2 separate regions of the Homo sapiens genome follow, and region 2 is linked to region 1. A link means that fine-mapping ties the variant in region 1 to the expression of a gene that starts in the linked region. Tissue or cell type: whole blood. Region 1 holds a variant in brackets; the other region holds the start of a gene. All regions are shown on one strand. Distances are between the middles of the regions.

Evidence for each region. PIP is the estimated chance that this variant, and not a neighbour inherited with it, causes the effect.
Region 2: PAXIP1-AS2 starts here. The variant in region 1 is fine-mapped to the expression of PAXIP1-AS2 in whole blood (TOPMed, PIP 0.99).

What each region holds. Positions count from the first base shown.
Region 1 is chr7:155,009,185-155,017,290 of GRCh38, reverse strand. No RefSeq gene overlaps it. Among named protein-coding and RNA genes, the nearest start is that of PAXIP1-DT, 9.8 kb to the right of the region's middle. The variant C/TC (reference allele first, on the strand shown) is at 3,646.
Region 2 is chr7:154,924,971-154,933,076 of GRCh38, reverse strand. PAXIP1-AS2 (PAXIP1 antisense RNA 2) reads right to left here and starts at 4,560. Exons shown (of 8, transcript NR_024476.1): 1 at 4,310-4,560; 2 at 4,053-4,121. RefSeq lists enhancers at 3,930-4,149, 4,300-4,399, 4,420-4,479.

The DNA.
Region 1 (8,106 bases):
GCCTGACTAATTTTTGTATTTTTAGTAGAGACGGGGTTTCACTATGTTGGCCAAGCTGGTCTCAAACTCCTGACCTCAAGTGATCCACCAGCTTCAGCCTCCCAGAGTGCTGGGATTACAGGCATGAGCCACCGTAGCTGGTCTGAGACCCCATTTCTACACAAAATGTAAAAAGTAGCCAGTGGTGTGTACCTGTGGTCCCATCTACTTGGGAGACTGAGGTGGGAAGGTCCCTTGGGTGCTGTGAAGTCGAGGCTGCAGTGAGCTGTGATGGCGCCACTGCACTTTCAGCCTGGGCAACAGAGCAAGACCCTGTCTTAAAAACAAAAACTTGTTTTAGTCTTGGAGGGGTTGGGAGTGGGGTGGTGGTGGTGATGCAATGGCAAAGTATTTTAGAATACAGTCTTTTTGATACTTTAAATATAAGTATTGGGATGAAGGCAAGCTCTCACATTTGAGGCTCCCTCCAGCCTTGTTTGTACTCCTTACCCTGAAAATGGTTCACAGCAGCACCACACCAGACATTATGTTGGGTGAGATGAACTCTCTCACATGTGGTTGAGTTAGTCATCCTTGATCCAAGCCAAAGAGCCGCCAGTTATATAATTCATTTATATTTATGTAAATCACAGTAGAAGAGACCAAAGAAATTCTTTCTCAAGGCATCAGAGATGTTTCATAAAATGGGACATCTAAGGTTGGCCATAGGAAGAGCAGGTGCGATTTGTGCAGGTGCATGAGTGCAGAGGGTTGCTGGTGATGGAACACAGCCATGGCTGCGGTGGGAAAGTTCTGGATGTGTTTGGAGAGTCAAGTGCTGTAGTCTAGTCTGCTAAGAGTGGGAGGACATGGGCCTAGTGTGCTCGGGCTACGGTGTACAAAGGTGGGGTGTATGGTGGAAAGCAACAGCTTAGAGAGTTCTCTGAAAGGCAGGCTAAGGTGACTGAACTTCAGTCTACAAGTGGTGGGAAACTATGGGACATTTTGGAACCAGAGCATTGAGTCAGCATTGTCTAGCTAGTACTTTTTTGGATATTGTGGAACTAGCAGCACTATTTTGCCTGCTATTATACACTGAATAGGGGCAGGCCAGGCACGGTGGCTCACGCCTGTAATCCCAGCACTTTGGGAGGCCGAGGCCGGCAGATCGCTTGAGGTCAGGAGTTTGAGACCAGCCTGGCCAACATGATGAGACCCCGTCTCTACTAAAAATACAAAAATTAGCCAGGCGTGGTGGCACGTGTCTGTACTCTCAGCTACGTGGGAGACTGAGGCAGGAGAATTGCTTGAACCCGGGAGGCGGAGGTTGCAGTGAGCCAAGATTGCAGCACTGCACTCCACCCTGAGTGACAGGGTGAGACCTTGTCTCAATAAAACAAAAAATAAAATAAAAATAAAATAAAATAAACAGAATAAGGGCAGATATTTTCCAAATGGAATCAAATGGAATACCAGTTTTTACTGTCTCAACTTCAGCCTGTAAATTTTTTTGATAGGAATTGAAAATAGTAGGATTCTAATTTATGAGAAATATGGACAGTCATTTCTTCATATAAAGCTTTTCCCCGAAGGTCTCCAATCTGCTTCTTTGTACATGTCTCCCGCGCTCCATCCCGCAACATCTTCCTCCAGGCAGGAGCTGACTGCTAGTCCTGCCAGCCCACCATGCTCATTCCCAAGCCCAGGCCTCTGCTCAGGCTTCTCTTCCACAGGGAACAGGCATCCTTCTCTTCCTGTTGATCTTCGAAGGTCTCTCAAGACCCCTCCTCTAAGACAACCTCCCAAAACATCCCTGTCTCCGTCGCATCTCACACTTTGTATTCCATTACTCTATGCAACTCACGTTGGCATTTGATATGCTGCTTACAGGCTGGAACTCAGTCACTCCATGGACGGGCCTTGACTGCAACACAAAGCCTATATGCAATGCACCTACGTGCTCAGTACAGGTTTGTTCAACTACAGTGGATTTCCTATCATCAGACCACTTCACTGGACTACATGCGTTGGGCTTGTGTTTTAAACCATACCAGTACCCAAGCTTTACTCACATAACCTCTTGATGGATCAGGGTCTCTCCCAGGTAGTGGTGCTGTGGATAAGGAGCAATGCAGAGACAGGGAGAAATGGGCAACAGTGTCCTCTCTCTGTCCGTGTCTGCCTGCAGAGTTCTGGCTGCTCAAATCTCCGTGCAGAGGCCCTTCTAAAGTGGGAAGAGAAGGCAAATTCAGCCATTTTGTAGATGCAGCCTCATTTTTGCTCTCGGAAAACACATCACTACATGAAAACATAGTTATCCACAAATTGTTTGTATTTATAAACATGAAATAACATGGCTTATTGATTTCCTCAAGCCATATAGCTGCTAGGCTTATCAATCTGTTATTTCTTCCCAAAATGTCATCCATTTAGTCCACCGGCAAGTCTGAGGAAAAACTAAATATTTTATTATGCCATTTATACCAGATGATAGTTTCAGAAGCTCTCCTTTTCATTATAATTATTTAGTATTATTTGATGCATCATGATTATTTTATTGTCTATAACTGAGATCATGTGACAGGGCTATTTCTTATAGAAGTCTATGTTCTAGGATGTATTTTATCCTTAAACAAAGGACATATCCATTGAGTTCAAATTGGACAGAAATTATGGAGTCTCAACTCAAGTTTTTACATGCATCATGGTTCAAAACAAGTAAGAAATACCTTTGCAAGTATCTGATATCTCACCTAAAATTCCCCTTAATCTGTCTTATTCCTGCCACTGATCATAAAACAATAAGTGTAAGACTTGGCAATATCCCCTCTTGTCATAAGCTTTCCAATTATTGAAAATTAAGTAACTCCCCATAGATGAGAAATCATTAAATATATAGTAAATAATGAGGTTAATTAATTTAACCCCTTCTAATTAGGAAACTAATTAAATCAGAAAATTAAAACTGACGCGAGACATTAAACATAAAATTGTCTCTTCCACTTCAACCACTTCCAAAAGAGAAATATGTATTAGCTACAAAAAATATAAATCTGTATACTCTTTTCAACCAAAATAAAGTTAGATTTTTCCGTAGTATAAATATTACTTTTAGAGAGTTTTCCTCTTTTCTATTTCTATTGTATATGAAATTAAAACTCTTTCCTTTCAATGTTTTTAAAGAATGAATTAGAATAAGTCTAAAAAGGAGAGCGTAACCCAGACTCTGCCAGTAACTGTGACAATGAGAAACTCACTTGAATTCCTTGGGCCTCACCTTTCTCAACCTTAGTGTAGTCTCTGAAAGAAGTGAGATTGACTCCCGTCATCTTGGAGACGGACACAGTGTTAAACAGGAGCAACAGACGAGGCAGTTAGAGTTAGAGAAGCTGTTAAAATCTTTTCAGGGTGTTATGATACAGAACTAGATCTTGGCTTGGGATCTTCATTAATTAGCTGGTGAAATGTCTGAGATAAATTAAAGAGATTTTGCAAACAAGCCCAATTCTCTCTTCAACCCCAAACTGTCATGCCTGTCAACATTATTTTTGGATATAAATTCCTAACCTCTGGGAAATGTCTCAGAACAACAACCAAATAAAGAAAAAGGTTGGGTTGCTTGGTGCCATTAAAAATAATTTTTCTTTTCTTTCTTTCTTTTTTTTT[C/TC]TTATTAAGACAGAGTCACTCTGTTGCCTAGGCTAGAAGTGCAGTAGTATGCTCTCGGTTCACTGCAACCTCCACCTCTTGGGTTTAAGTGATTATCGTGCCTCAGCCTCCCAAGTAGCTGGGATTACAGGCACTCACCACCACAACTGGCTAATTTTTGTATTTTTAGTAGAGACAGGTTTTCACCACGTTGGCCAGGCTGGTCTCGAACTCCTGACCTCAAACTATCCACCTGCCTTGGCCTCCCAAAGTGCTAGGATTACAGGTGTGAAAAAATGATTTTTCTAAGCTTGAAAATATCTAAGCAGGTATCCTGCCAGGAGTATTTTTTTACATTGTTCTCAGGCTCCATGCAACTGACAAGCACGTGGTGCACTCTGCGGGGTGGGAGTCGGTGAGCGAATACGGATTCCCAAAAGCCAGCGCCATAAATCATTTGCCAGCAGAGAATACCTTCGATAGACACTTGGTCTTGCTTACAGGAAGGTGAGTAGCCCCAATTTGCAGGGAATCTCCCAAATTTCAGGACTCTCTTACTTCAGTGTGTATTTCCTACACCTGGGACCTAGGAACTCCCACAGGAATTAAGTGTAGCCCATCTAATTAAGGTGTTGGAAAGCACCAGTAGAAGCAGATGGGGCACAATTTCTTCTCCAAAACTTGAATCCTTAATTCATTCATTTTTTAATTAGTGTAAACAAGTGTGTTCAATTGGCATGTTAATGCTGCTGGGTGTTTTTAATCAAATGACCAATACAATTTGTGACAACAGTTTTATTTTCACATGCTTCAAAGGCGATAAATGAAACAATAGAAGTCTTCAATCACCCTACAGGCTGGCCACTCCTGACTTAGAAAATTTTGTTATTTCCTAGATTAGTATTTTCGTTTTAGTCCTAGGACTTGTCCATCTCTATGCTAGACCTACAAAGGTTAGGTCTAAATCAACTGTTTTGTAAAAGAAGCCGTTCCTCTGTGTATACACGCCTCTTTCTGAGAAGATGCAGGTACGAGTCCCATGCTGGGCTGTCTCCCTGCTGGTTCACAGAATCTGAACAAGTACAGCTTCTAGATGCCACCTAATGATGTCAGTTAAGCTAGTGCTCAGTTGTGTGTGCAAAGTTACTGGGAGTAATTTAGCTGCCCCAGACAAATGTAGATAACACAGTGTGAAGAATCATTAACTTTAAAGAACCAGCAATTGGTAAACATATTAATGCTTTCTGGAAAACTATAGGGAATTACTTGCTGGGCAGATGACACAGTTCTGAATAATGAAAGTCCACTGTGATGTACTAGAAACCATGGCATTATCCTAACTCTTAAGATGCTCTCGGAGGACTGTGAACTGTGCCTTTAGCCACAACCAAAACCCAACCAAAGAAACAAGAGCCACAACACCACTTTTCCACTGCAGTCGCTTGTTGCGTGTTGTTCCCCACCATGGGTTGCTTTCCTGTAGGATTACAGTTCCTGCCCTGTTCACTGCGGGCTTCACCTTGTGACTTGCTTTGGCTCTGGCTTGGGTTCTCTGAATTGCCCCTCTCAGAGCAGGGCCTGAGCAAGGGCTTGTGTGCAAATTGTTTAACTGGGAAAGTGACCCCAGGGAGCAGGGGTGCAGGTGCAGGGGGTGAAACAGGGAGGGTGGGATGTGTGACCAAACTGGCCACCCAATGGGACTCAGTGCAAGATCAATGGGGCCTTTTCTGAGGAGCCTGGTGAAATGTCTCAAAAAATGGGGCAAAGAAAGGAAAGCTTTTACCCATGGGTTCTCACCCCGCAGTGATCAAGTAGCTTCACAAGCTAACTCCTCGAACCTCACCCTTGTGCCTGTGAGCACAGACTCATGAGATTCAGAAGTTTTGTGTAGCTGCAACGTAATTTATTGAAGTTTAACTGGTAGTGGCAGTTGAGGTGGGGAACCCTTCCCACATCCACCCACGGGGATGTCCGTAGCGCTCTGGACCAGTGACTGGGTCAGGCTGCATTCATTCTCCCTGTTCTCAATGGAGTGATCTTTCCCAGCTCCACCGCACGTCGGGGAAGACGGGCATCCATCTGTGACTAGACTGAGAGAAGACACATCTAGAGTTGCTGTAGAGGCCCCCATGAGTGCCTGCACTTTGGGCCTGATGCTATAATTGAGTGGAATTTTTGCAATTTCTTCTCAAAAGACACAGATGTGGAGTGCAGAAGGGACACACATTCACATTTGTGACTGAGAGGGAACATGGGTAGAACATACTGCTGTCCTCAGTTACCTGCTGTATTCCCAGGAAGAGGATGACATACCCCTGCCCACTCTGCCATGACCTGGAGTAACTTCCTGTGGCAGGAACAGATTCACTTCCACATTGACATCAGGTTTGGCAATGAGACTGACTTTCAAATGGAATGTGTGTGAATTCCAGAGAGAATTTTTATAGCTATTACGCGGTTCTGCCATTCTTCTTTCCCCTTGGTCACTAGAACTGCCTATGCCTTCTGCAGAGTTTCCAGAAAAAAGAGCAGCAGAGCCACGCCTGCCCAACACATGAGTGAGAAGCGAGCTTTGTTGAAGCCACTGAACTTTGGGAGTTAGTTCCCACAGCATAAGCTAGCAGGGAAAGCTTTTACCACTTGACGCACCCGGGCTTCAAATGACCACTGGATGTGTATATGCTAATAGGAAAAGAGAGAAAACGTAAAGAAACGAAAGTGAGGACTTGAAATAATTTTATCTTAATAGACTTATCACGCAGTTCTTGGGCACTCAACGTCAGTTACAAATCCTGGGGTCACTCTTAGGCTGTAACAATTTCTCGTTATTATAATTTTTAGCAGGGCACACATAGTACGCTGTTTGGCTTAAATCCACTCCAAACATGGGCCGACATCTTAATTTCTAGCTTCCTCTTGACTACCCTTCAGACATACTGAATGTTAGCTTGCTAGGGCTACTGTAACAAAGTGCCACATACTGGCAGCTTAAACAATAGACATTCATTCTCTCAGTTCTGGAGGCCAGAAATCGAAGATGAAGGTGGTGGCCAGGCTGTGCTTTCTCTGAAGGCGTTAGGGGAGAGGCGGTCCTGGCCTCTTCCAGCTTCTGGTGTCTGCCGCAACCTTGGTGTTCCTCAGCTTCTAGACACGTCACCCCAACCCTTGTCGCGGTCATCACTTGGCACTCTCCTGGGTGTCTGTGTTCAAATTTTCTTCTTCTTATATGAACACCAGTGACAGGATTTAGGTCCCATCCTCATCCAGTAGGACCTCATCTTAATGATGGGGGCAAAGACCCTACTTCCAAATAAGGTCACACTCACAGGTACCAGCGGTTAAAATCTGAGTTAAGATTCAATATGTCTTCTTGTTTACCCACAACATGAGTAAACAGTCAATCCCACAGCCAGCTTGTCACAAAGTACTTAACTTTAAATAGCTGGTAAGCAATTTTCTTTTCTGTTTTCACAGCCACAGAATTATGCTAAGTCTCAAATGCAACAACTTCCTCTGATGAGGTCTCAAGATCTTCATACGCTAGACACAGTCTATTATTTCTTATTACTCCCCATTTCTATCTTAAATCATCAGTTATTTAATATCCAAAATGTGCACCCTTTTATTTGGCAATATCAGTATTCTGGCCTCTTTTCAGTGGTTTCTCCTCTCCCTTCAAGAACTATTCCCCTCAGCCCGCTCCATCCAAGAGGTTTCCCCCAGCTATTCTGGCACATGGGAACCTCTTTTCTAAATCTCTGCTGCATTTCTACAGAATCCCACTAGTGTTAGGCTCGTGCATCCAAGTATTTGTTAGTTTTTTGAGAGCAGACACAATATTTTAAGAATTTCTCATTGTCCCTGTAAGAGTTTCCTGTCCATCACAACAGGGTCACCACTGGGGGCAGCACACTCAAATTACAATCATCTAAGAAGGTTTATCAAGGAACTACTTACAAAGGTGTAGGCAGGATGCATGGAGAGTGAAGGGACCTGTGGGGAGAAGCAGGTGAGCCCTCACCACCCTAGGTCCAAGGGATGAGAGGAAGGAAAGATTCCCAGGACCTGGAAGGAGAGAGTTGTATAGAATGGGCTCCTCTGCCAGCTCAAGGCAACCTGATGAGGAACCTGGGAAATAAACACCGTCATACCTCTCTCCTCCCTCCCCTCACTGCCCAGCTTTCTGCTGGGACTCCCCATTGACCAAATTCAACTAGAAGCCAATGTGCAAGGGATTCTACTTATATAATCTGCTCAGGTCAGCACCCAGGGGCGGAGAAAAAGGTGGAGCAGGATGGAGTACAGATCTGACATGGGGAGTGGGACAAATGGAAGGCATCTAACACATCCCTCACATGCCTCAGAGAACTACCTTGTGTTTGCTTTTTAAAAATAATGCTGTTTCTTTGTTGTTTGTTTTTGAGATAGACTCTCACTTTGTGGCCCAGACTGGCATGATCTCAGCTCACTGCAACCTCTGCC
Region 2 (8,106 bases), 84 kb after region 1:
CTCTTCCCCAGTCCCACCCCCTCAACCACCATCAGCTCTGCAGCAGCCTTGAAAAACAGCAGCCTTGGAACTGTGGTAGTAGTGAAAACCAACAGCCTAATGGACGGACTAGAGGGGCAGGACAGCTTCAGAGCCCCAAAAACCTCATTCCCAGAGAATCATCAATCTTTCTCCTGGGCTGGCAGCTCCTATTCAAGCCCCATTCACAAGGCTCACCTTTATTTGACCTGATTCAGATCTCCCAGTGAGGAAAGCCCCATCCCCAGGGTGTTTGTGAAAATCAATCAGCACTAACTGTTCAACATCCCAGCTGTCAAAAGTGGTGGTGCCACTTAGGGCAGATAAGAAATTGGATATAAAAGGCCGGGCATGGTGGCTCACACCTGTAATCCCAGCACTTTGGGAGGCCAAGGCGGGAGGATCACAAGGTCAGGAGTTCGAGACCATCCTGGCTAAAATGGTGAAACCCTGTCTCTACTAAAAATACAAAAAATTAGCCAGGCGTGGTGGTGGGCACATGTGGTCCCAGCTACTCGGGAGGCTGAGGCAGGAGAATGGCGTGAACCCAGGAGGTGGAGCTTACAGTGAGCCAAGATCGTGCCACTGCACTCCAGCCTGGGTGACAGAGCGAGACACCGTCTCAAAAAAAAAAAAAAAAAAGAAAGAAAAAAGAAATTGGATATAAAACTTACAAGGAAAGTCTAGGGACAGAGATATTCTTAGGGGCTTTGAAAAGCTCCAACTTATTCCTGGGGGATTAGAAGGCCTCCTGTGTGCACGGCTGCATGCAGGCCCAAGAGAGACCAGGAAGGCCCTAAGTACTTACTCCAGTGGCTCTTGAGGGTCTGATCAAGCAGGAGTGAAGACTAAGGTGGAGTTGTGAATTGCAGGGACATTGAAGACATACCCTAACAAACAGCCCATGAGCAAGGGGAGGCTTATTGGTTGAAGGCATTTAAGGAATTCTCTGTCCAATCATTAGCTGACCACTAAGCTAACCAAGTAAATACTTTAGTGGCTGCACACAAAAAAGAATACAGACTTTACAATACCAATCCAGAAACATCACTAAACAAATAAACCACCACCACAACAGCAATCACAAAAACAGCAACAACTCTAATTTCCAGAGTCGATATATTATTTAAAGTGTCTAGTTTTCAACCAAATAATTAGGAGACACACAAAAGAACAGGCAAGTATGGCCTATAAACATAAAAAAGTAGTCAAAAGAAATTGTCCCAGAGTAAGCCCAGATGTTGGACTTATTAGACAAAGACATTAAACCAGGTATCAAAAACATGTTCAAATAAAAGAACTATGTCTAAAAAAATTAATGGAAGATATGAAAGTTATTCCACACCAAATAGAAAAAAAATGTCATTTGGAAATTATGATGAACAATAAGAACATTTTGTTATATATATTCAATAATAAATCTATCTATCTATCTATGTATCTACCTACCTATCTATCTATCTATGTTGGACCAGCAATTCTATTTCCAACAAAAATGTGTACACATATTCATCCAAAGACATGCAGCAGCCCCAAACTAGAAACAATGTTAAATGTCCATCTACAGTAGAATGAAATAAATACTATTATAGTAATGCAATAAAATATTATAATAACAATAAAAAGAAATGAACCATTGGTACAAACCACAATACAGATGAATTCCACTGGGAGAATATCATACAAAGAAGTTAGACAGAAAGTAGAAATACATACAATATGACTTCATTTATATAAAGTCCAAAACAGGAGAAACCACTGACAATACAAATCAGAGTTTTAGTTACTTTTGGGGAGGAGTGTGAGATTAGTGACTAGTAAGGGTGCATACATAGTTTCTGGGATGCAGGCAATGTTTTCTTCACACAGTTGGTGGTTACATGCGTGTAGTCACTCTGTGATAGTTCATACAATGCTATAATGTGTATACTTTTGTTTGCTGTACTTCAATAAAGAGTTAGTTAAAACAACAACAAAACACTTCTGTTTCTAGTATCTCAGGAATTGGAAAATTATAGTCCCTGGGCCAAATCTGGCCACCTGCTATTTTTGGAAATAAAATGCTAATGCGACCCAGCCACACTCATTCATTTACAGATTGGCTATGGCAGCTTGCATGCCACTACAATGCAGCGTGGATTTCATGGCCTGCAAAGCCTGCAATATCTACTACCCAGCCCTTTACAGGAAAAGTTTGTCGATCAGTGCTCTAGCCAGGCCTTGCTCCCATTCTTCAAACTGGCTCTTTCAAGCCTTCGTTCTCAAACTCAAATGCCAATCAGACTTTTTTTTCTCCCAGCAATTTTGAATTAGGACACAGAAACTGACTGGGTTAGGTGTTGTAGAGAGCAAAGCTGGGAGGTCACATGAAATGGAGGGCTGAGGCTGCCATGCGTCAATAAACACGATAGGAGGTGTGCAGAGTCTCACGTGCAGAGAGGAAGGTGAGTCAGGCCTGCAGGGCACAGGCAGGAGACCAAGAGCTCTGCAAAGGTGCTGAGGAAATCAGAGCGGGGCATCCTCCCTCTGCTTTCCAGGACTTGGGAGGCTCAGTCCTCTATTCCTGCAGCTAGTGTCATGAGCTTTCCCCAGCACAAACCCCAAACCCTTATCTTTGTAGTTCTTCGAGTGGCACGCCTTGTTACTGATGATCGCTAAGAGGAACATGGTGTTCTTCAGGCTGGGGAGAGGGCTTGATGCATGGTACATGAGGAAGGCAGTGCTCTCCAGCCAACAATAAACAAAGAAAAATTAAAACATGGATGCTTTGGTTGCCAAGAAGAAATGAAAAAGTAACATTAAGATTCAAAGACTTTTTTTTCATATCAAGACCCTCAATAAAAACCAATTTCAGCCAGGCATGGTGGTGCGCACCTGTAGTCCAGCTACTCAGGAGGCTGAGGCAGGAGGTTCGCTTGAGCCCAGGAGTTTGAGTCCAGCTTGGGCAACAGAGTAAGACCTCTTCTCTAAAATAATGAAAAATCTAACAATGACATTTTGAAAACTTTCAGAATTATTTAATCTGATTAGCCTAATCTGTATATTGAGATTAGTAAAGGTAGGTTTTGTTTTGTTTTCCAATCAGGAATATCCTCGCCTCTCCGTCCCCCCTGTATATACCTGGGAGCCTGAGAATGTATTTTAGTGCTACCATGGGAGGAAGGAGAAAGAATGACTAAATGGTTCATAAAACCAAACAAACCCTGAAGGTTCACGCCATTCTGCCCAGTGGGCCCTGTGGAACTTCGTGGGGCTTGTGGTTTAGGCTTCAGAGCTTTGGGGCTTCTGGGGTTTCTGTCTATATTATTCCTGCCTGGATGACATAGTGAGGTCTTCACTGCTGGAGAAGGGAGGGCTGGTGGGCCAGAGGGGAGACCCTGCAGAGGTGTGCAGTGTCCTTCTCTGCTGTTCATCTCAACCCGCTGTGTTAGGAAACCAGGAGGAAGCCCTACCTGGAATGAAACAGGTGCCTAGAATGAAGAGGGTAAGGACAAGGTTTAAGACTGTGACACCTGTTGCTTAAGAGACGCATTTAGGAGTGTGGCATGTAGATCCCAAATGTCCGTTTTGTAAAAGTTGTTGTTATTGTTTCACTTTTGTTGTTGTTGTTTGTTTGTTTTGAGATAGAGTCTCACTCTGTTGCCCAGGCTGGAGTGCAGTGGTGCAATCACAGCTCCCTGCAGCCTCAACCACCTGGCTCAAGCACTCCTCCCACCTCAGTCTCCCGAGTAGGCGGGGCCACATGTGTGCACTGCCATTCCTGGCTAAGTTTTCTTTTAATTCTTTGTAGAGACAGGGTTTCCCTATGTTGCCCAGGCTGGTCTTGAACTCCTGGCTTCAAGCAATCCTCACACTTCAGCCTCCTAAAGTGCTGGGATTACAGGCGTAAGCCACCACGCCCAGCCTGTTGTTATTGCTTTGAAGGAGTTCAGGAAATGCCACCCCCATGGCACTTGGGAGTGCTGATCCCTGTGAGCTGAGGGCACTTGGGAATCAGCGGATGCAGGCAGAGGTTTCCTCTGAGCTCCCCTTACCTGCCTGAAGACGGATCCTCCAAAAGGAACTCAGCTGTCATGAATCGCCTCCCCAGGAATCTCGTCAATCTGGGAGGATTAACACAGATCACAGGAGAGGACACTGGAGGTGACATCAGCCCAGATGACTATCACCCGTTCTCCCGAAGGCGGCTCTGAGATGTTTACGACCTCAGAGACATTTCATCCACAGAGCAGCACAACCTTTACTCACCAGACAGTCCCTCCCCAGGCTCTCCCATCACTTGTGTTCTCACCTCCCCTGGAAGCCCCGGGAACTTCGAAGTAGGCTTCTGTGGACTCCTGCCACTTCATCAGTAGCTGGGGCCCTGGTACCAGCACAAACTGCTTGCATCCAACTGACTTCACCAGACATACGGGCGTCTTTGGTAAGACCGCTCTCAGGTTTTGAATCTCCCAGGTTTGGGCTGAGATTCAGATTTTATTTAAGTAAATGAATTTCATGCTCAGTGGGACTGATATTGAAGCCGCCATTTAGGGCTTTAAGGCAGGAGTTTCGCGTCATTTCTCTAAAGATTCTGCTATTGGCAGGTTTGTGGTTTCACTTTTCTATTAGGTTAAGTTTTCGTTCGTCTTACTTGCTCTTTTGTAACCTTTTCTCTCATTGGACATTTTACTTGCTCAAGTTTGTAACCTTTTCTCTCATTGGACATTTTTTTACTTGCTCAAGTTTGTAACCTTTTCTCTCATTTGACATTTGGTTAAAGAGAAAGCAGTTTTCTTTGTAAAAGGAGAAAGTGAATGTTTGTGGCTTAAGCCAAATTTGTGGCTTTAAACCAGCCAGGCTTTGGATCTTGGTTAACATTGAGATTTAAAGTTTCTTCCTGAGTCACCCAAAATTTGTAAAAGGTTGGAATGAGGACGTGATAAGCTGAAGACAAAAAGGACTCTTTCTCCCAGCTGAAAGGCACCTTAGGCAATGGAGGTAACACAAGGGTGTGGAAGCTCACAACAAACCCCAGAGAAGAACTCACAGGGAGAGCTGCTTAACCCCCGGGGCACACAACACACAAGGGGTTCGTCACCCAGTGCCTTGAACTCCCAGAAATGTCTGGGTTTCTCTGAGGTAGGTAAGAGGGAAGAAGCTACTTGTAGGTGATACCTCCAGGAATAATCCCTACTAAGCAGCACACTGGACCCCAAACACTTTTCCCTTTTAGCCTTTGGGCATTTTAAAAGAGAATCCAAATTATGAGCAATTATCCATCTATAACCAAGCCCTCATTAAGCAATGCACCTTTGGAAACTCCAGCGGGGTTTATGTACAAGACTTATGGCGCCACCTCCTGTCGATAGTTGGAGAAATGGTCTTATTTGACCTAAGAAGATCCTAAATTACAATGATCAAAGAGAATTATCTTTGAAATAGCTAGATTAGTTTATTTATATGCACAATTTTAAAAAGCCAGCTATGGAATCAAATAAAATAATTAAGAGAGTTACTTCCAATGGCACCCAGAAGCATCCAAAAGAGGTTTTGACAGAATTCTTCCCTTAGAGGAAGAAAATAAAAAGCACTCTAAAACCATTACTGAATTTTAAAAAACACTGAAATGTCTTCTTCTCTCCCTGCTCCCCTGTCTCTCTAAGCCTCCTTGTCAGAACTACCCAGCCCTGATTGACCTTCTCCTCCTCCTCCTCCTGCCCCTCCTCCTGCTCCCACTGGTTTGGCTCCATTTCATCCAGCATCTGGTAGAGGGGAACCTGCTTTATCAATCATGATCAAACTTACAGGCATAGTTAAAAGAATTCCTTGATCTTCACCAGGTTCCTATTGGTTTTGCTAGGAAATTTGAATTAAATATCCAAGCTTATGACCCTAGTTATTCTGACTTCTAGCAACAGATTCACATGTTAGTAGCAAAAATTAAAGCTAAAGGCTGGCTAGACAAAGCTCACTGGAGAAATCTGTTAGGGATCTTCATAAATGTTCAGAAGAGGACCATAGACAGGCTTGAAGAACAGCAAAGGCTTTGCATCAGGCTATCTCCTCAGTTTTTCAGAGTAGTCAACTGGAACAAAATACAATATCAACAAAATTCAGATGAGTCAGTAATATACTTTGAGGGCTGTGGAAAAAATTTTAAAGAATATTTAGTTTTATCCGAAGAAAGCTGTGCTAATCATCGAAATGATACTCGACTCCAGTTTAACAAATGAGTTAGATGAATTGGAACTAACAATGAAAAGACAAAGTTGGGCCACTTCTGATACTCATGATTTGGTCAGTCTCATTGACCGGTTATCTGATACCTTAACTGAAGAAGAAAGAGAGAGGGAAGCCAAACAAAAGAGCGAGGCTAATACAATTATGAATTTACAATTAAAACAACTATTCACACAATTTTGGCCTTCACAATACCCCTAGAAACTCCCTAATGGACCTAACCTTCCACTTTGCAATTTTTGCAAAAAGCATGATTACTTTCAAAAGAGTTGCCAAAAATGAAAAAGGAAAGAATGTTAACCAGTGGAGGCAGAAAAGAAAACAGGGGTGCTCCAAGGAACTTAAAGGGGCCTTTCATTTCCTCCTTACTAACACTGGGAGAAATAAAAATTATTATAAATGGAGAACTAACACAAGCACTTATTGACACTGGAGCCACATTATCTGGAATTAATCCCATCTTGGTACAAGGTCCCATTCCTTGCAGTAAACAAAGAATTCAAATGGTGGGCATCACAATCCTCCTGTATTGGCATACCAATCTCAGCCTGTAACCTTTCAACAGTGTTCGTTACAAGGAACTCATGCCCTCCTCTTTGTTCCATCAGACCCCATCCATTCAACAGGAAGAAACTGCTTAGAATTATGTGATACCCACATTTCTTTCTCTCAAAGGAAGGAAATATATTTAAAATTAGATTATAAAACTCAACTTTGAGACACAACAGATATTTTAATAAAATTTTCAAAATCTAATCCAATTGCAATCCATATTGCCATGAAAGACAATGAATTATTGCTTAATGAAGAATTACAAAATGTACTAAAGACAGTACTTGATCCATTGTGGTCAGTGTCCTCCATTGATATAGAAACTATCATCTCAGCTACTCCAATAAATATTTAAATATACCCATGGAAACATCTTCAAAATACAAGACAATACCCCTTGAGAACTAAAGCTCTAGGAGGGATAAAGCTTATAATGTCAGATTATATAGAAAGATGACTGTTCATTCCTTGTACAAGCCATTGTAATACCCCAATCCTCCTGGTAAGAAAACCAAATGTTAGAGAATGGAGGTTTGTACAAGACTTGAGAGCAATAAACAACATGGCAATCCCATGGCACCCTATACTGCACAAGCCTATGTTACTCACAGCCATTCCTTCTAATGTGGAATTCCTTACAGTCATAGACTTATGTAGTACATTCTTTAGCATTCTTGTAGACAAAAATAGCCAATTTCTCTTTGCCTTCACTTGGGAAAACAGACAATACACTGGGTCACACAGGCCTCCAAGGATATGCTGAAAGCCTGACTTACTTTTCAAAAATATTAAAAATAGGCCTCTCAGATGTTAATTTCCTGGAAATGCATACATTAATCCAGTAAATAAATGACTTCCATCTTGGAGAGCAAACAAGATGTTCTGTGAATGATGGGCTACATTTATTACAAAAGGCAGCCCTAAGAAAACAAAGTCTCTAAAGAGAAACTTCAATTTTGTCGAAGACAAGTGATATACTTAGGCCACCTAATATCCAAGGAAGGATGTTTTATTAATTCAGACAGACTAGAAAGGATCTCAGCTTTTTACAACCAAGAATGAAGAGATGGTTGAGTGGGATTTTAGGACTGGCAGGATATTGTAGAAATTGGATTCCAAATTTTTATTTAAAAGCCCAATCCTTATATGCCCTCCTTTTTGTTTTTAAGACAGAGTCTCACTTGGCTAATTTTTGTATTTTTACTTGAGACGGGGTTTCACCATGTTGGCCAGGCTAGTCTTGAACTCCCGACCTTCATTGATCCACCCATCTTGGCCTCCCAAAGTCCTGGGATTACAGGCATGAGCCACTGC